2 separate regions of the Homo sapiens genome follow, and region 1 is linked to region 2. A link means that fine-mapping ties the variant in region 2 to the plasma level of a protein whose gene starts in the linked region. Region 2 holds a variant in brackets. A gene starts in the other region. All regions are shown on their forward strands.

Region 1 (10,585 bases), not on the chromosome of region 2:
TAGAAAGCACTCCATGCTGAAGATGTGTGGGTGTCTTTGGAGCTCACAGCTGCTTAGGGAAAAGTTCCAAATGGCTATGAATCCTTGGTGGTAGCCTACATACAGTTGGTGGGGAGTGGGTGGGCCTGGAAGGGGACTTCAGTGATGAGGATCAGCAGAGATACCATTTTTGAACCATATTAGAGGATTTTTAAGGCTCATTTTGTAGCTGACCTTCCCTGAGTCAGCCAGAGCCCATCACTGCCTGGGGAGGGTTATGATGGATCCTAGAACAATGTTCGACTTTGACCCCCAAAGTAAGCTCTGGAAGCCCATGGTGAGACAATAACACCCAAAGTCAGGCATTGTGGAGAAGAAACAGGGGCTTTTAAAATTCCCCAAATTCCCTTCTGCATAGCAAGAGCAAAGCCAGCTCAGCTTAGAACATATTTTTATCCTAAGTGATAGGAGCTGGGGGTGTTGGTGGAAGGGAGGGAGAATGCAAGGGAAGGTCCCTGCTGTTAGAAGAAGGAAGAGCTCCCCACTACAGGAGGGTGGAAAAAGAGGTTCAGAGAGGGCAAGGTTGAGAGGTAAGATACTGTCTGAGTTCTTCCAGGGCTCACAGCCCTGTGTGGATGGGCTGGGAATGGTGGGAAGAGCATGGAGATAGACATCCCCTCTCTGGGGGTCCACTGTGGGGTAGAGATGGGGTCATGGTGAGTAAGCAGAAAAAGAGTGAGACTCCAGGGTCTGCTTGTGATATGGAAAGATCCAGAAGCTCCTCAGCTAATGGCAGCTGAGGGGCTTGGCTGTCAAAGTGGGCAATGGGGTGGCAAAGTGACAAACTTTCCCTTCTTCCCTGCTCTCCACTGGGAAGGAGAGGCTGGGAGCAAGTCTTGGACCTCTGGAGCCTTTGTACACCTGTGGTGTCTAGCACTGTGCTTTTCCACAGGTTGCTTTCTGTTGGGTAGGACCCCTACCCACAAGGGCCATGTTGCATGGTATGGGCCTTCTCCTTTTCCACACCACAATACACCCACATCAAGAGCATACTGACTTCAAGACAGCCCCGATGGTAAACAAACAAACAAAACAACAACCCTGAGTTCTTATTATGATCAAGAGTTTGGGCCAGGGCTTTGCGGGAGGGACTAGGAAAGTCTTCACTCATTTGGGGCCCTGGCATGTATGTCTCCTCTGATTCTTCAATGTACTTCCTCTAAACTTCTCTTGAGAACTTGAGTTTGAAAGTTATATCTCTGTGTCCTTAGATCCTGAATAGTCAATATCTTGAGTGCTACTGCTGCTGCTGATGATGTTGGAGAAGACAACCTCCTTGAGTGCTTAATACATGCCTGGCACTTTCTAAGCATTAATCTTTGTGATAACTCTAAGTTCTATTATTACCCCCACTTTGTAGGTGAGGAAACTGAGGCACAGAGCCATGGAGTAACTTGCCAAGAGCACAGAGCCCTAACCGGCAGGGGCTAGGCCAATCCCAGGCAGTGAAACTCCAGGGCCTCCACCCTTACGCTGTGTCTGATCTCACTTTGTGTCTTTATGGGGCCTGGCAGATAACAGGTGCTCAGCAAAGATTATGCTTCTAAGAATCATCACCCTTCCTACAGATAGGTTATGACTGTAAAGCTCTGGTCAATGGATCTCTCTCTTTGGACTTGATTACTTTTTTTTTAGGCTTTCCTGTTAGTTTTGTCTACCCCATCACGCTGTCCAGCCTGCAGCTGGAGCTCTGGGAGAGTAGATGCTCTGAGGTCTCACCCTCAACTTGGCCTCTGACAGGTTCCCTGCCCAGCCAAACTGCCATCACCAGTAGACAAGCTTCCTGGTAATCCTCACATTGAATTCATGTGATGCATGGATGAGGTATCAACATCAGTCCTGTCCTGGAGCCTGAGGAGTGAACCCAATGATCCCTGAGACCCTTCTAGTCTTCAAAGTCCACACTGACCAGAGTGGTTTTAAAATATTCATCATCTTCTTTAACTAGTCTCAGAAAATAATACTCCAAAATATGAACATTCCCACTTTCAGGCCCATGCACACTCTACACACTTTTCCAGGGCCAGTTCAAATGATATCTCCTCCTCCAGGAAGCCTTCCTTGCTTATCTGGCTGAAATTGAACTTCTCTTGTTTGAACACCCAGCCCTTGGTTTCCCCAAGCCATTCACTCCCTGGTGCCTCTGTTTAGCTTTCCCTGGCCTTGGCTTATTCTCAGTTACAGGCAGGACCCAGATTGCACACACGCTAGGGCCCCACCCCCAGCTCCTTGCAAGCAGATGTCATTGTTCCAACATTGATTGATATGTTTAATGAATCCCATATTTCAAGAATGCAACTGACCAGACATAACTCAGGAGTGGTTTTCGCCATATAAGCGGAGCTCTGAGTCACAAATCCTGTGTCTTCAGAGGTCCTTTAATGTCATTCTCTGCCCCCTCCTCCTTGAGTAGCAACAACATTAACAACCATTGATTAAAGCCTACTGTGCACCCAGCCCTGTGTTAAGGGCCTTTCTTACAGTGCCTTAGTGCATCCTGACAACTTTACAGGACACGGAATTTGTGTCTCCATTCTTCACATAAGGAAACCTGTTGGAAAGGTCGCATAACCAGTCCAAGATTGAACAGCTAGCAGGGTGCAGAGCCAGAAGTGGAAGCCAGGTCTGATTCCAAAGCCATTGCTCTTAGCTTCCTGAGGTCCAGGCTGTCCCTAGCCCCTAAGGCAGCCACTCCTTCCCAAGGTTCTGATGCAGCCACCTATCTGGAGTCACACAGGAGTGCGTCTCTTTTCTTGTGGCTGGATCTCCTAGTGATATGAGGACAGTTCCTGGAGAAGATTCTCCCCTCCTGTCTAAACACACCTAAATGGGCTTGGCCTCCTCCCGCAGCTGGCTTCTAGTTGCATATTGGCCTGGTGGCAGTTCTTCCCCTGCTCTCCCTTCCAAGCCCCCACAACTCAATGTATCAATGATTGTTTTAAACTGTGACTCTAGGATTCCACTAGCCAGAGGCCCTTTCAACCATGGGCCCTCTGAGAAGCTCCTCTGTAGGCCGACAGGAGGGTGGACTTGCTTCGCGTGGTACCCGGGGACTGGGGCAAGCGGCTGCGGGATAGGGGTCTCCACCTGAGCTCCCTGAGGGCACCTCTCCCACTACCACCGCATCTGACCCCCACTACTGGCCCCAGCTCGGGCCTGGAGCCCACGCAGAAGGGGAGGCAAGGTTGAGCGCCCACACCCGGCCAGTAACCGAGGCGCTGGCCCTTGCCGGAGCACTTGGCCGTCTTCCGCAGAACAGCATCACTGGCAGCCGCCCCGCGTGGAGGGTGGAGCCGGGGAGCCCGGTGTGGGACGGCCGGGGCCAGGGTACCCTAGGGCGGAGAGCTCAGGGCTGGCTTCCCGCTCCCAGCCGCGCGCCCCTCGGGCCGGAGGTTCCTGCCGCGCCCCGACACCTGGAGTGCATTAGGCGGCGGCGCGCGTCTAGGCGACGGCGGCTTTCCCCAGATTATTGAATAATTGCATAATTCCGAGCGCGGGTTGGGAGGCAATGCCGGGTCCCTACCCCGGGTGTCAGGTAACGTTTCGGGGGTCCTGCGCTGCGCGACTGTGTCCCGCCGCTGCTGGCCGGGCAGACGAGAGCTAGCCCCCGCCTACCGGCCATCGCCCCGGGGCTTTGCTCTGTCTTTGGCCGGAGGCACTCTGCGCAGCCCTCACCCCCACCCTTCAGCCCTCCGGGGCCGCCGCGCCCGGCTCTCCAAACTTTGAGATGCTTCCCCGGAGCCAGGCAGGAGGGCAGCCAGGGCACACTCTCTTGGCGCTGATTCCCTTCCCCAGCCGGGGCCGTGCGCCCTCGGCGCTCCCGGGACACCCGAGTGCCCCTGGCAGCCGTGCGGGAACCCCGGCATGGGCCTTGGAGGCACCTAAGGCGCCCAGGAGGGCCACCAGATCTGGGAGCTTTTCAACTCAAGCCTCTTCAACTCTTCCCAAACACACCAAAGAGTCCCGGCTTTCAATAGCCTTCGCACCTCCCTCTTTAGCGAAACTTGACTGAACCGCTAGACTGGGGCCAGTCCCTGGGGGACCCACGTCCCCAAGAGCAGCTGAGGTCTGACCCTGGGAGGAGGGTCGCGTCCCGATCCTGGCCGCTGGATCCAAGCCCCGAGGGCCCAGGGAGGGACTCCGAGAGGCAAGGGGAGGCAGAGGGTGGGCACCTACCTGGCCACAGGCTGAGCGCCCAGGCCACCACCAGGCCCCTGGGCAGGTCCATGGCCCGCGGCACGGCGGCTGGGTCCGGTGTGCAGCGGCGGCGGGGGGCGGCAAGCCAGAGCGGCAGCCTCCTCGGCGCGGCGCCTGCAGCCTGCACTGCGCGGGGCGCCGGGCTCCCTGACAGCTGCGGCTCATTCAGAGGAAGTGGGAGGGCTCGAGCGGAGGGGAGGGGCGCCGGACACCACTCCGGCTCGGGCTCTGGGCCAGTCTCGGCCGCTCTGCCACCTGGGCAGGCGGCGCGCTGCCTCGACGCGCCTGTGCAGCGCTCCTTCTCCGCCAACCCCACGTCAGCCTCTGGAGAAAACTCCAGAGAACCGCTCCTGGGAACCCCCTCACCAGTGTAGCACCGCACCGCCTCAGTCAGATTCTGTTCAGGAAAAGTGGTTTTTATTCCCATTTCCCAGTGAAAAGAGATTCACAAAACTCAGAGGGTACCCAAGCTGGCTCAGGAACACCTGCTGGAACGCAGGTCTCCCTTGGCCAAGTGAGTGGATGTCCCTCAAAGGTCCATTCTAAGACATCCCCGTGTCTCCCTGCACCCTGCGGCTTGAATTGTAGAGGCTAGTGTTTCTTCTGACCCTGGAATACATGCAGATTCGCCTCCACTGCCACTCCCTGAGCCTCCACACCTGAGGCATTCCAAAGCACCCAGGGACACCGTGCACCCCCTCTTAACCTAACGTGAAGCTCTTCTTTGTAACCCTGCCACCTTCTTTCCCTCTTCTAATCACTGGTAGTTAAATTCAATGCACATTTATCTCAAGAGCTTTAAATCCAGGCCCCGGACCTCCACCGCGCTTGTGGAGGCTTTTCCAGCAATGGAGGAAGCCGAGGCAGAGGGTAGGAAGGCCAAGATGCAGGGAAAGCCACAGCAGAGCGCCCTTCCCCCACTTTCTCAGGAAAGGCTTCCTTCACCCCCTCTTCCCGTCCCCACCAGGTTGAGTCCCAGACACATGCTGATATTCCCCAGCCCGCTCTCCCTCATTTCTCTTCATTGTGCTTAGTAGAGAAGCAAGGCATCAATTGGTGTGATCATTTAACTTTTCTCTCCTGTGCAGACTGAAAACACCATCAGGGTAGAAATCTCTGGTTCACAATGGAGTACTCAGCCCCTAACACCCAGGAACAAAGTAGGTGGGCGGGTGGATGGATGGGTGAGTACAGGTGGTGTGTGGGTGCACAAAGGATAGAGTTTTCTATCTGGGAGGTATTGGAAGGGCTTCCCAGAGGAGGTGATGTTCAGTCAGGGCCCCTGAAGATGAGCTGGAGTTTGAGAAGACCCAGGTTCACATAAGTGAAGTGGGCTTGTGCTCGTCTCCCAACCTCACTATCTTTCGGTTGGCTATCTGGGTTTTACTTCATCTTCACCTCACCCATTCAGCCACAGACTCGGGGAAGGTGATTCCGTCCCTGGTGTGTGTGTGTGTGTGTGTGTGTGTGTAAGGAGGCATGCGGTTCAGGCTGAAATGAATCAGTATGTTGCCCTTCCCAGCCCATCGTTTCAGAAAGGGCAATATGACAAAAGAAAAAGTTTTTTTGGGAAGCAAGCTTTCTTGCCTTTCTAAAAGAGCCCCTAGAACAAACAAACAAATGAACTAACTCTCTCTCCTCACCTCTCCCACTCCTGCCTCCTCTCCCAGCCTGGGACAAGGAACTTTGTAGGCTCAGAAGTTGACAGGGTCAGGGTAGGGAAGGAGGATCTGGCCTTGAGATGAGGTGGACACTGGATGACAGAATGGAGGATCTTGTTGAACTCCTGAATGAAGCCACCCCTTAACCCCACTCCCCTTGGGACTTATCAGTTATACGACAGTGAGTCCTCTTCACTGAGTTGAGTTTAAGCCAGCTGAGTTGAATGTAGAACACCCCTACAGCTAGGGAATGGGCTGCAGCCCACATTCCTGCCTTGCACAAATCTCCAGGTGCATCAGAACGACCTGGAGCACGTGCAAAGAATGCAAATTCCCCAAGGATCAGGGCATGCTGGTGGGTGCCCCAGGCACCTCTGACGTGTGGGTGGTCTGCAGCTTGTGCTCAGAGTCTGCATGCTGCTTGCTGAAGGGGCGCACTGTAGTGGCTGTCCTAGCTGCGCTGCTGCTGGTCTCGCTGGTAACAATTCTACCATTCATTCACCTTCACCGTCCTCACAGGTGCCTGGGGAATGGGGGTCCTGAGGATCACTCTGTGTGCTTTTGTGTAATGTGGGAGGGTGAGGGGAGAGGTGTGCCCTCATTTGTTCTTTCAACAGATCCTACAGAGTGCCTACTGTGCCCCTGTGCTCTGTAGGACACACGGAAGGAGAACCCCACACTAGGGCAGCTGGTGATGGAGCTGAGGAGACAAGACATAACCATGTATTTATTTAATCATAATCTGTTATTTATTAATCTATTTAAAACCATTTATTATTTCATCACTATTAAACATTATTTAAATCACACCCAAGGCAGCAGCATATGAGTGACAAGTGCACAATCCAGACTCTAAGGCTGGAGAACTGCAGAGAATTTGGTGAAGGGCTTTATGAAAGCTGTGATTTCTGTTGAATAATAATAATAACTCTTTACATGTACACAGTGTTTTAACTGATTTATTTATTCACATGCCATAAACTGTGCCATAGAATCCAGTAGTTGTTAGTATATTCACAAGATTGTAAAATCATCCTCACTAATTTCACAATATTTTTATCACCCCAAAAAGAAGCCCTGTAACCATGAGCAGTCACTCCCCATTCCTTCCCACCAGTCCCTGGCAACCACAAATCTATTTCTATGGATTTGCCTATTCTGGACGTTGCATATAAATGAAATCATATAATACGTGACCTTTTGAGTCTGGCTTCTTTCCCTTAGCATGATGTTTCCAAGGTTCATCCATGTTGCAACATGTATCAGTATTTCATTCCTTTTTATTGCCAAGTAACATTCCATTGTATGGATCTACCCCCTTTTGTTTATCCATTCATCAGGTGAGGCTTATTTAGGTGTTTCCACTTTAGGTTATTGTGAATAATGTGGCTATGAACACTTGTGCTGCCGGTCTTGCTGGTAGCAGTTCTACCATCCATTAACATAGCATAATGTTAGCATAATGTTCATACAAGTTTTTGTATGAATGTATGTTTTCAGTTCTCTTGGGTATACACCTAGGAGTGGAATTGCTGATCATATAGTAATTTTATGTTTAATCATTTGAGGAACTGCCAAACTATTTTCCACAGTTGCTACATCATTTTAGATTCCTACCAACAATGTACAAGTGCTATGTATAGTGTTTTACTATTTTTGAAATCCCTTTCATATCCATGATCTAATTTAATACTCATCTTGTACAAAATTGTATTTATTTTTTATAGTAAAGAGATTGTATAGTTGAAGATTCTTTCACTTGCAAGTGACAGAAATTCAACACAATCAAACTGAAGCAGAAAATAGAATGTAAAAGGTCATGTAACTAGGAAGTGCAAAGGTGTTCTGTCTGCAGGTGTGGCTGGATCAAGGGTCTCAAATCAATGTTACTGCTCTCTCTCTGTCTTCTCTTAGTTTTGCTTCACTCCATTTTCCTTTCCTGCAGCAGAAGAGTTTCTCTGACTGTCTAGCAGTCCCAAGCTTATACTTCATAGATTCTGAAGGGAGAGAGACAGCCTTCCTTTAGTAGATCCAGCAGAAAAGTCTAGGGCTTTGGTTCATGCCCACCCCTGAACCAGTCCTAGTGTCTGGAGGATATGGTGCTATAATTAGCTCAGTTTGGGACACACACCCAGCCCCATGACTTGGGAAGAGAAAGGCGCCATGACTGACAGCCCCATCAAAACCACATATTACAGGAGAGGACTTTCCTAAAGGAACCAGAAAAAGTGGGATGGCAAAGTATACTGGACAGACAAATCCATGGTTACTAAAAAATCTAAGCTCAAAGTAGCAATAGATTCACGCAAGATTCCACATCATCTATGAGGCAGAACTGAGATTGGAACCCAGCATTCTGAAAGCAGATTGAGTATTAATCCCAACATCCCAACTGGGTGGAGGGAGCGGGTATTTCAGGCCAAGACTGCATGAGCATGGTCAGCTCAGAGACAGGTCCTATTGGCAACTTCTGTGGCTCCCAAGATTTCAGTCTGAGCATGCTCCTCTGGGAGGACCTTGGCTTCTCTATGGAGGGAGAACGAGCAGTGGTCTGGAGTACTGATGACAGAGGCCTTGGCTCAGTTAGGACCAATGCTTTTTTTTTTTTTTTTTTTTTGAGATGGAGTCTTGCTCTGTCACCCAGGCTGGAGTGCAGTGGTGCAATCTCAGCTCACTGCAACCTCTTCCTCCTGGGTTCAAGTGATTCTCCTGCCTCAGCTCCCCAAGTAGCTGGGATTACAGGCGCCCGCCACCATGCCTGGCTGATTTGTGTGTGTGTGTGTGTGTGTGTCTGTATCTTTTTTTTTTTTTTAAGTAGAGATAGGGTTTCACCATGTTGGCCAGGCTGGTCTCCAACTTCTGACCTCAAGTGATCCACCTGCCTTGGCCTCCCAAAATGCTGGGATTATAGGCAGGAGCCACCATGCCTGGCCACAATGCACTCTTCTTCCAGAAAAGTTATTGGGGTGCCCTGATCTGCACTCATTTCAGAGAGGTGCCTCTCTCTTTCTACTCTTTCTCTGAGTTTTTCACCACTTTGACCTTGGGTGATCAATTGTCCTGGTTTGCCTGGGACTAAGAGGTTTTCTAGAATATAGGACTTCAGTGTCAACACTGGGGGACAATCTCTGACAAACTGGGATGAACTGGTCTCCCTGTGTCTATCTTGGGCCTTCTGTCTCACTTTCTCCAACTTTCTTTTCCAATACTCCCCACTCTCTCCCACTCTCTGGTTATTTCTCTCCACCCTTCTCTGTCCTGCTCCCAGGTACCTCCAATGCAGCCAGTCTCCATAATCAGCCTGGGGGCTCCACCTTGAGGCACTCCCTGGCTTCTAGGCTCCTTTCTGCCCTTGCGGTCCCCCTCATGGATCCCACCTCCTCTCTGTACTATCAGTTGGTTTGTGCTTAGGAAATGCAAACTTTTTTTCAAAGATAAGCGTAAGCAAGCTTACAGTTACTGAGAAGGCACATCTTCTGCCAAAAAGTGATATAATAAATCCCAAAGGGAAAAGGAAAAAAAAAAGTAAAAAAAAAAAGCCACCAGATTGCCTTGTTATCTGCTGTTTGAATGATGCATGCCACCGTTTTGGACCAATGACTTCTGTGATAGGAAGTGGCTGCATTTGTCATGCACAAGTGTGCTTAGAGGGTGTCCCTTGGTTTTTATTTGTCATGCCAGGTCTCATCCCCACCAACAAAGTGAAGCAGGTTAACTTTGAAGAAGTGTGTTTACACCAGTAGTGTATGTTTGTCCCAGCCACTTTCCGCTTCAAAGTCTAATCCGAAATGTTAGAGCCGGGTGGATGCTGCCATTCTTCCTAATCCTGTGCCTGCGGGTCAGTGACTGGAATTTCTACAAGGATCAAGCCCTGTACACAACCTATACTGAATCTAGAAAGTTATTTTGTGATCTCCATTTCTCAAGCCACAAGTATATACAGCATTTGCAGTAAAGATATCAAAGGGAAGGAGCATGGCCACAGCACAGACAGACACGCAGGATGGATAAGGAAACATCTCTTTGAAGAAAAAGTATGTCAAAGGGTATGAGAGAATAGAAATTGCTTTAAAAGTCTAGAGGTGTCAGTGGATGTTCCAGCTGAGAGGTCATTTCTGATGGGGTTTAGCTGGGCTAAACCCTTGACATTGGACCGGACTGGAAGAGCCACATCAGAATTGAATGTCACTACAGCGATGTGAAGAATACCTTTAACTGAGAAGTTAATATGGGCTAACTGCAACTCTTGCATCATTTCGTTTAGTCCTCAGCACCACCCAGGGGGTTTCCAGGACTTCCATCCTGGTCCTGGGCTGGGCTGAGATGTCTGAGAGAAGCCATGAAAGTGAAGGTCTGGATGCAGTGCACAGGGGTAAAGAGGACAGTCTTGGGAAGCAGTCATGACGTGAAACAAGACATGCAGCAGAGTGAGGAATTCCCACAGTGCATAGGGTTCACGGCCAAGGGTGCAACTTGGTAAGGGAGCAGGAGTTGAGCCATTCTATTAATGCATTTACCAGACACTCTCCTGGGGTTAGAGTGACAAACCAGATGTGTTATTGCCTCTCCACAAAGCTCCTAATCTAGGAGAGGAGACAAACATGAACGGTAATAATCAAAACAACACCTCCCATTTATTGATCACTTATGGAGCTGGATGCTTTCCTCACATTTCCTTTAATCTTCAT
Region 2 (10,387 bases):
AGCCGACGTGGGTGGATCACCTGAGGTCAGGAGTTCGAGACCAGCCTGGCCAACATGGTGAAACTCTGTCTCTACTAAAATACAAAAATTAGCCGGGCGTGGTGGCAGGGGCCTGTAATCCCAGCTACTCAGGACGCTGAGGCAGGAGAATCGATTGAACCTGGGAGGCGGAGGTTGCATTAGCCAAGATTGCGCCATTGCACTCCAGCCTGGGCAACAAGAGAGAAACTCCATCTCAAAGAAAAAAAAAAGAAAGAAAGAAAAAGAAAAGAAAAGGTCTTCATGGTCCTACGAGGAAGACTGGCTTCCATGAAGCAAGGAACGTGGCTGACTGTCTACACTTGCGCTAACAATAGCTCGGGAAAGAAAACACAGTTTTTGTGCATGATTTTCTGACCCTCACCAAACTTGGGCGGATGGCTACGGGCAGGGTTTCTTATAAAGCTGCTCGTTTCCCCGGGTGCCGAAAAGGAATTCAAACAGAGGCCTTTTCTGTTCTTGTAACTTGCTGACCCACATGGGAAGTAGCCACCCCCCCAGTACCCTGACATTCCCACCCAGCCACCAGGCAGCAGCAGCCGCTGGGCTCTCTGACTGCAGCCCACAGCGAGAGACGAATTTCATGCTGTGATCCAGAACATACACACAAGCACCCGCACACACAGGTGCATTTGTATGTGTTACTTTCTCCTGGATCCCCAGTGCCTGCCACACAGTAGCTGCTCAACAAGTATCTACTGAGTGAGTGAGTGAATAGAATAATGCGTTTGGAAATACACGGTTGACACTAAAGTTTGATGGGACAATGCTCACCTTACTACGTGCCTTCTGTTGAGTTTCCCAGTCCATTAATGGGTCACAACTCAAAGTCTGAACAACACTGCTGTGAAGCCCCCATCTTAAGGGGCATGTGGATTTAGTCCTGAGATACAGGTAAGAGCTTCACAGATGGATTGTCTACTGCATGTCAAGCTTTGCCAACTGCCAACCAGGGATGGGGCCATCCTCATTGGCCACCCCTTTGACTGAACCAATTCCACGTTTCAGGGCTTGTCACTTACACCCCCACTCACGGCACTACAGGGAGAGAAGGGACAGAGAAAGCCAGACTCATCTGCGTCCTTCTCTTTCTCCCTATTTGAAAATCATTTTAACTTAGAAGTTAACATGTACTTGGACTATTTCTGAAGTTTCCATATTGTTGGAGGTTTTCTGTTTTGGGTTATGGAATCCTATTTTCTTTGATTGATTTTTTTTTTTTTTTTTTTTGAGACAGAGTTTCACTCTTGTCACCCAGGCTGGAATGCAATGGCGCGATCTCAGCTCACTGCAACCTCCACCTCCCGGGTTCAAGTGATTCTCCTGCCTCAGCCTCCTGAGTAGCTGGGATTACAGGCATGCACCACCACGCCCGGCTAATTATTTGTATTTTCACCATGTTGGCCAGGCTGGTCTTGAACTCCTGACCTCAGGTGATCCGCCCATCTCAAACTCCCAAAGTGCTGGGATTATAGGCGTGAGCCATCGCGCCCGGCCTTATTTGGTTGATTTTGATTTGGGGTTTATTTGTACCTCAGACACAAAGGTTAGATTGGTCATATTCCTTACTTCATGACACTAGGTCTTCCTCAGAGGTCTGAGCTAAACCTTTGTCCTGTTTCGTTCTTCCCTAGCTCCCATCCTGTTTCCCCTCACTAATTCTATACTCTCTACTCTCTATAGGCAGCCAGAAGTCTGAGTGCCCTGACAGTCCCCACAGATGGTGCCCATCAATTTCTCCCCTCACCACATGTGCAAGTCACACCACTCAGCCAGGGGTAGAGTCTGTTTCCCCTCCCCTTGAGTCTGGGCTGGCCCTGTGACTTGCCTTGACCAACAGAAAGCACTAGAAATGACACTCTGCCAGTTCTGGGCCTGGACCTCAAGAAACCTGGTAGCTTCAGTTTTCAATCTTGGAAGTCAGTCACCATGCTATGAGGAAGTCCAACTATCCTGCCAGAGAGAGTCCTGGGGGATAAGACAGCACATGGAGAGAGAAAGAGGCCACACAGAGGTGCACTGAGGCCCCAGACATGTGAGCAAAGTCTTCTGGGAGTTTCCAGGGCAGCCCAGTCACCAGCTGATTGTATCCAAGTGTTTCACTCCAACCAATACCCCGTGGACCGCCCAGCCTAGCCCTGCCCAAATTTCTGACCCAGAGAATCTTAAGAAAAAACAGTTGGTTTAAGCCACTGGAGCTTTGGGGTGGTTTATTATGCATCGGTAGATAGCTGAAACAATATATATTACTAAATATGTAGGTACCCTTATAAAATATGTGATGGGGTTTGCATGTCTATCTGTTCTGTATTTACATACACAGAACTTTCATATATCTCATTTGTTTCTGATCTTTTTCACTCAACAAGAAATTTTTTAGAGCTATTTGTATTGCTATTTGTTACAATGGATTGTTACATTGCTATTTGTTTATCTGGTTTGTTGCTATGAACTGCTGCACAGTATTCAATGGTGTGTATCCATCACAGTTTATTTCCCCTAATAATGAACTCAGGTTGTTGCCAACAACTATCACAATTAACATGACGACTGATGTCCTCATCGTGTTCCCATGTGGACCTAGGTGAGAATTTCTCTTGAAACTGTATCCAGGCCAGGTATGGTGGCTCAGGCCTGTAATCCCAACACCTTGGGAAGCTGGAGTTGGGAGGATCACTTGAGGCC[A/G]GGAGTTCAAGGCTGCAGTGAACTATGATCGCACCACAGCATTCCAGCCTGGGCAACAGCAAGACCCTTTCTCAAAAAAAAAAAAAAAAAAAAAAAAGGAATGAAAGAAAAGAAAAGAGAAACGAAGGAAAGGAGGGAGGAAGGAAGGAAGGAAGGAAGGAAGGAAGGAAGGAAGGAAGGAAGGAAGGAAGGAAGGAAGGAAACTATATCCCCGAATGGTATTGCTCATTCGCAGAGTATTGCCATACCTAATTCCACTCAGGACTGCCAGACTGTTTTCCAGAATGGCTCTGCCAGTTCACACTCCCACCAGCAGTATACGAGGGTTCTCTTTTTGGCTTTGTCGCTTGATATTATTAACATCGCAATTGTTGCCAAGCTGATGCCATATCCTTGTTCTTTTATTTTGCATTTCTGGCTAACAGTGGGTTTGAACATTTCTTCATCGATTTATTAATCATTTGGGTTTCCTCCTGCATGAATTGCCTTTTCATATCCTTTACCAGTTTTTCTATTGGCTTTCCTGAATTCACTTTGTTGATAAGCCAGAATTTCCTGTATGTTCTACTTGTTCAGAAAACGAGACCTTTTGAAAGTTAAAAAATATATACATGTTGTTAACTCCAGAAAAATTAATAGAAGCTCTGAAACATAAAATTTAGAAAATCTTCCAGGAAAAAAAAAAGACATAGGTTTTTTTTTTTTAAATGATAAAAGTTAAATTGGGAGAAATTATTTTTTCTCTGGTCTCATGCTACTGAATATATTTCCCACTAGGGAAACTAGACAATCTCCAGACTCCCTTTCTCTCTTTTTTTTCTTTCTTTCTTTTTTTTTTTGAGACAGAGTTTCCTTCTTGTTGCCCAGGCTAGAGTGCGGTGGCCGCGATCTCGGCTCACTGCAACCTCCGCCTCCCGGGTTCAAGTGATTCTTCTGCCTCAGCCGCCTGAGTAGCTGGGATTACAGGCACTCACCACCACACCCAGCTAATTTTTGTATTTTTAGCAGAGATGGGGTTTCACCATGTTGGCCAGGCTCGTCTCGAACTCCTGACCTCAAGTGATCCGCACGCTTCGGCCTCCCAAAGCGCTGGGATTACAGGCATGAGCCACCGCGCCCCGCCCAGACTCCCCTTCTTAACCCACTCTTCCTCAGGGGAGGAAACTGACTGATTGGCATGCTTGGCTCCGCCCCTTGGGGGGGCTCCCTTTGGTGTCTTTCTGCCCACAAGAAGCACACCTTGTATTCTACTCTCTGCCAGGCGGCACAGAGCTGCTCCTGCTTTGCCCTCCTCTGCCTGTGACTGGGTGGATACATCTGCTTAATTATTGGATGAACTAATTACAAGGTTTTTTGATCTAAGGTTTTAAGTCAAATCCTCCTTGTTGCTTATCAGTAATTATGCTAACATTTTGATATCCGCTCATCTGTCTACTGTGTCTTGGCTCTCAATTGATTTCAAACTTAAGAGGAAAAGATAGGGTTCTTTTTTTTATTAGCCCCATAAAACCTCCCCAAATAACACAAACAATATGTTCAAAGAACCAACATCCAATTAATAGAAGTTCTAGAAGATAAATAAGAGGAAGAAAAGGAAGAAAAAGATGAAAGAAAGAATACAAGGCTGGTACTTAGAATTAAAAAGGATAAGTCTCCAGATTTAGGTATTCTAGTAATAGCCCAGCCGAGCACATTCATTCAAAAATGACCCAAAGCGTGTCACCATGAAATTTCAGAATACCAGGGATAAACAGAAAATTCCAAAAACTACCAGGGGTGGGAGTAAATCACCTACAAAGAAACAAGAATCAGAATGGATTTCATTTTTCAGCTGTTATATTGAACACGAAGAGACAACAGGATGATGCCTTCAAACTTCCAAGGAAAATTTTTTTCAACCTAGAATTGTAGACTCAAATGATCCATGGCACGAGAGGGGAGGCTACAGAACTGTCAGATATTCCAGTTCTCAGACTATTTATCTCCTACTCCCATGTGAGGAATTACCCCAGAAAGTGAGGAAATTATCCAAAAACAACACATGTAGAAGAACATCTCAGTATAAGCCTTTTTCATTATTAGGAAAGAAAATCTTATTCAGCTTTTTCTGTATTTTTTGCCTACAGGCTGACTTTTTTTCTTATAATGCAAACTGGTGAAATTCCAGAACCTGGCCTTGGAAATGCAAGTCACCATAAAGAACATGAGTTTAAGGTCTGGGCATGGTGGCTCTCGCCTGTAATCCCAGCACTTTGGGAGGCCAAGGCGGGCAGATCACCTGAGGTGGGGAATTCAAGATCAGCCTGACCAACATGGAGAAATCCTGTCTCTACTAAAAATACAAAATTAGCTGGGTGTGGTGGTGGGTGCCTGTAATCCCAGCTACTCAGGAAGCTGAGCCAGGAGAATCGCTTGAACCCGGGAGGCAGAGGTTGCGGTGAGCCAAGATTGCGCCATTGCACTCCAGCTTGGGCAACAAGAGCGAAACTCGGTCTTTAAAAAAAAAAAAAAGAACATGAGTTTAAGGAAGCAGTAGAGACTCTCCTATGATAAGCCGTCAAAGTGAGAACGTTTACTAACTCCCCATCTTGTTCTCTCATGTACTGTGGAAACCTAGGTGGGCACTTATAATTCCTGCTGACTTTCGGCCGGGCGTGGTGGCTCACGCCTGTAATCCCAACACTTTGGGAGGCAGAGGTGGGCGGATCACGAGGTCAGGAGATCGAGACCATCCTGGCTAACACGGTGAAACCCTGACTCTACTAGAAATACCAAAAATTAGCCAGGCGTGGTAGCGGGTGTCTGTAGTCCCAGCTACTCGGGAGGCTGAGGCAGGAGAATCACTTGAACCCGGGAGGCAGAGATTGCAGTGAGCCGAGATCGCGCCACTACACTCCAGCCTGGCAGAAAAGAGCCAGACTCTGTCTCAAAAAAAAGAAATTGTTAGCGAAACATCAGGAGTTCAGTCTAAGTCCTGCGGCTTTGCTGCACACAGAAAGCCAATCACTGAGATGATGAGTAGTGCCAAGGAAGAAGGCTTTAAATCAGGTGCTGCAGCCAAAGAGATGGCAGCTGTCTCAAATCCATCTCCTGGACTGACTAAAACCAGGGGTTATATAGCAGGGAAGAAATGTAACAATGTGTCAGAAAACAGGAACTAGGGAGGTGCAAGGAGGCATTTGGTGCGTGATCTGGTGAGTTTCAGTTCTTCCATACATTTCTTTTTTTTTTCTGAGACGGAGTCTTACTCTGTCACCCAGGCTGGAGTGCAGTGGCACGATCTCAGCTCACCACAACCTCTGCCTCCTGGGTTCAAGCAATTCTCCTGCCTCAGCCTCCTGAGTAGCTGGGATTACAGGCACCCGCCACCACGCCCGGGTAATTTTGTATTTTTAGTAGAGACAGGGTTTTACCTTGTTGGTCAGGCTGGTCTTGAACTCCTGACCTACTATACGTTTTTGAGAGGACTGAAGGTACTTTCCTGAGGAAGGAACTCAAATCAAACAAATATAAGTTTCGTCCGGGCACAGTGGCCCACACCTGTAATCCCAGCACTTTGGGAGGCCAAGGCCGGTGGATCACGAGGTCAGGAGTTCAAGACTAGCCTAACCAACAGGGTGAAACCCCGTCTCTACTAAAAATACAAAGATTAGCCGAGCGTGGTGGTGGGCGCCTGTAATCCCAGCTACTCGGGAGGCTGAGGCAGGAGAATCACTTGAACCTGGGAGGCAGAGGTTGTGGTGAGCCAAGATCACGCCACCCTACTGCAGACTGGGCAACAGAGCAAGACTCCATCTCAAAAAATAAAAAAATAAACATATATATATATATGAGTTTCAAGCTTTAACGGCAGAAGGGTCAAGTTCTATGTTTATCCAAAACTGTCTGTGGAACTATAGGGCCGGTTTAAAAATCAGAAGAGGGGCACTGGCCCTTTCCTCTTCTCCTATGGGCATGATGGAATAACTGGGATTTGTAAGTCTGCTAGAATAACACTTAGCAAATAATTCGAATTAAGTTAACACTCAAGACACTGACTGTGGCTAAGAACGCCACAAAGGAAGTCCTCCTGAGAAAGAAGAATCTTATTTTAGAGAGTTTTTATTTTAAGAAATAGAAAACTGCCCTAAGGAAAACATTGCAAGATTAGAATAACTGGCATATCTCCAGTAAAAGCAAAAGAAACTATGCAAGAAGAGAAATGTTATGACAATAGAGTACTAGGTTCTGCAGGACATAACATTTACATAGACATGTAATGTGAACGTTTCATTTTCGTTTTTTTACTAAAGATGCTGATGTAACTGCATTTGGAAGACAGCAGTGGCTAAGAGCTAATCCTCATCTTGGGAAATAAGCAGTAGAATATTAATAAATCCCCTCTCCACTTTGTCCAATGGTCACCTGGCATTGGGAGGGATCTAGTTCGAGGAAAGCTGACCAGTAATTGTACTTTCCTGCCTCTGTATTATATTTTTATTTATTTATTTAAGATGGAATCTCGCTCTGTCGCCCAGGCTGGCATGCAGTGGCAGGATCTCAGGTGACTGCAACCTCCTCCTCCCAGGTTCAAGCGATTCTCCTGCCTCAGCCTCCCAAGTAGCTGGGACTACAGGCACCTGCCACCACACCCAGCTAATTTTTGTATTTTTAGTAGAGATGGGGTTTGGCGACGTTGGCCAGGCTGGTCTGGAACTCTTGACCTCAGGTGATCCACCTGCCTCGGCCCCCAAAGTTCTGGGATTACAGGCGTGAGCCACCGCACTCAGCCCCTGTCCCTGTATTCTAAAGGATGTTAGCAAGAACCCTCGGAAGCCCAACCACAGGAGAGGCGTGGACTTAGCAGCAACCATTGTAAACATCGGCTGTGGGAAGCAGAGGAGAGGGGAACCCGGGAGAGCCAGTTTTCGGGGTGAAACAAGCAGGTGGCTGGTGAAGCCACTCATCGGCCAAGGAGCCCGTGGGAGAGCTGGTTGCCAGCAGGGCAAGGAGTCGCGGAGTTTTGTTTGGGACATGGGTTTCTTGTGCTGTTGGTGCATTCGGGTGGAGCTGGCTAGAAGGCAGTTGGACATAGATGGGCCGGAGACTGGGAACCAACAAAGGCAATCAAAGCCAGGGAAGCGGAGAGAAGGGTCTAGAACAGAGCCTGAAAAACACCCACATGGACCTGGAAAGGAGAAGGGGAAGGTGCAGCCAGAGAGGCAAGAGGAAGACAAGGAGGGCGTCATCCAGTCCAGGATGAATACCTGAGCCTGTGTATTTCCCTGTGATGGTTACTACTGAGTGTCAACTTGACTGGATTGAAGGATGCAAAGTATTGTTCCTGGGTGTGTCTGTGAGGGTGTTGCCAAAGGAGATTAACATTTGAGTCAGTGGACAGGGAGAGGCAGCCTGCCCTCAACCTGGGTGAGCACTGTCTAATCAGCTCCCATCTCAGGTAGGATAAATGTAGGCAGAGGAACATGGAAGGACTAGACTGGCTGAGTCTTCCGGCCTCCATCTGTGCCCCGTGCTGGAACATCGGACTCCAAGTTCTTCAGCTTTTGGACTCTTGGACCAGTGGTTTGCCAGGGGCCCTCAGGCCTTCGGCCAAAGACTGAAGGCTGCATTGTCAGCTTCCCTACTTTGGAGATTTGGGGACTTAGACTGGCTTCCTTGCTTCTCAGCTTGCAGACACCCTATTGTGGGACTTCTCTTTATGTTCGTGTGAGTCAATACTCCTTGATAAACTCCCTTTCATATATACATCTATCCTATTAGTATGTCCCTCTAGAGAACCCTGACTAATACATTCTCTCCACACAACTTCCCAATATGTTCCCTATTATTACAGTAGTAATAATTCAATAGAGAAAATATTCATATAACTATTGGAAATTAAGAAAAGATTTCCCTCACATGCCACAAACTCTGAGGCATCTCTGCAAGGTGCAGTGTGGATAAGGGTGAGCGAAGGGCAGAACAGCCCGGGACTCTGTTGTGGAGGGAGGCAGAAGGAGCCCTATGTGTGGAACAAACAGGACCCCCAGGGAATGCCACAAATATCCCTACCCTGTTCAGGTGGCGTGAGCGGGGGACAGGGCTATTTGGGGTGCCAAGTTCAATGGTATTGAGGTCTGCAAGAAGTGCCTCAGATGCCAGGTCCAGAGTGAGCCGAGGCCTCTGCAGTACTGTGGCTCCCCTTAGCAGGGCACACTCTAAAGAAGGCAGAAGTGCTACAAGCTTGGCTGCAAACTACAAGAGCAAAATGTCATAGAGGACAAGTCGCTGCCCCAGCTCCCTCTTATATTGCCACATAAATCCAGAGAACAGGCCGGGCGCAGTGGCTCATCCCTGTAATCCCAACACTTTGGGAGGCCGAGGTGGGCGGATCACCTGAGGTCAGGAGTTTGAGACCAGCCTGGCCAACATGGTGAACCCATCTCTACTGAAAAAAAAAAAAAATTAGCCAGGCGTAGTGGCAGGTGCCTGTAATCCCAGCTGCTCGAGACACTGAGGCAGAGGAATTGCTTGAACCCGGGAGGTAGAGTTTGCAGTGAGCCAAGATGGTGCCACTGCACTCCAGCCTGGTGACAGAGCAAGACTCTATCTCAAAAAACATCTCATTCGAGCTTAGGAGGTCAAGGCGCAGTGAGCCGTGATTGCACCACTGCACTCCAGCCTGGGTGACAAAGCAAGACCCTGTCTCTAAAAGATATAAATAAATACATAGACAGATACATAGATACATAAATACAAAGAAAACATTTCTCCAAGCTGTATGAAGCCTTTGTTTCCTATTCCAATGCCTTCATCTAGAAACTGGCCTCTAGTTTCTGAAACAAACACAACACCATTCATTAGCTCATGCTCATCAGAAAGTATCAGGGGCCTTCACTGCTCCAAGCATCAGCAGCAACTCATAACACTCACACTTCCGAGACCATCCTGGCTAACACAGCAAAACCCCGTCTCTACTAAAAATACAAAATAAAATTAGCCGGGCGTGGTGGCGGGCGGATCACAAGGTCAGGAGATCGAGACCATCCTGGCTAACATGGTGAAACCCCGTCTCTACTAAAAATATGAAAACAAAAAATTAGCCGGGCGTGGTGGTGGGTGCCTGTAGTCCCAGCTACTTGGGAGGCTGAGGCAGGAGAATGGCGTGAACCCAGGAGGCGGAGCTTGCAGTGAGCCGAGATTGTGCCACCGCACTCCAGCCTGGGCGACAGAGCAAGACTCCAGCTCAAAAAAAAAAAAATTCACACTTCATATTCTCTTAGTTCCCCCAAATAAAGCCAGGGCGTTTTTTCCCCTCTGATAATAAGCATCCCGTAATTGTGTTTCCTTTTTCATTTTAGCTTCCAGGAATCTCAGAGTGAAACCAGACACTACACGTTAACAACTTTGTCCGTGGCACACGCCTGTAATCCCAGCACTTTGGGAGGCTGAGGTGGGTGGATCACTTGAGGTCAGGAGTTCGAGACCAGCCTGGCCAAAATGGTGAAACCCCTTCTCTACTAAAAATACAAAAATTAGCTGGGCATGGTGGTGCACGCCTGTAGTCTCAGCTACTTGGGAGGCTGAGGCAGGAGGATTGCTTGAACCCAGGAGGCGGAGGTTGTAGTGAGCTGAGATTGTGCCACTGCACTCCAGCCTGGGTGACAGCCAGACTCCATCTAAA

Which allele goes with the higher level. Positions count from the first base shown, and alleles are read on the strand shown. Strength reflects both the effect of a copy and how common the allele is.
In carriers of allele A in region 2, the plasma level of the protein whose gene starts at base 4,364 in region 1 tends to be higher than with G alone (weak association).

What was found. PIP is the posterior inclusion probability: the model's chance that the variant is causal. Protein levels are from antibody-based Olink assays in UK Biobank. Linkage for the fine-mapping came from a reference panel and not from the study's own genotypes, which makes the PIPs less certain.
Region 1: it holds the start of ITGA11, and the variant in region 2 is fine-mapped to the plasma level of the ITGA11 protein (UK Biobank, PIP 0.96).

Annotation. Positions count from the first base shown.
Region 1 is chr15:68,427,800-68,438,384 of GRCh38, forward strand. It overlaps ITGA11 (integrin subunit alpha 11), which reads right to left and starts at 4,364. Exons shown (of 30, transcript NM_001004439.2): 1 at 4,216-4,364. The coding sequence starts at 4,267. RefSeq lists an enhancer at 2,765-3,524 and a silencer at 6,071-6,365.
Region 2 is chr17:7,115,621-7,126,007 of GRCh38, forward strand. No RefSeq gene overlaps it. Among named protein-coding and RNA genes, the nearest start is that of ASGR2, 6.0 kb to the left of the region's middle. RefSeq lists an enhancer at 1-140 and a silencer at 6,222-6,321. The variant A/G (reference allele first, on the strand shown) is at 2,725.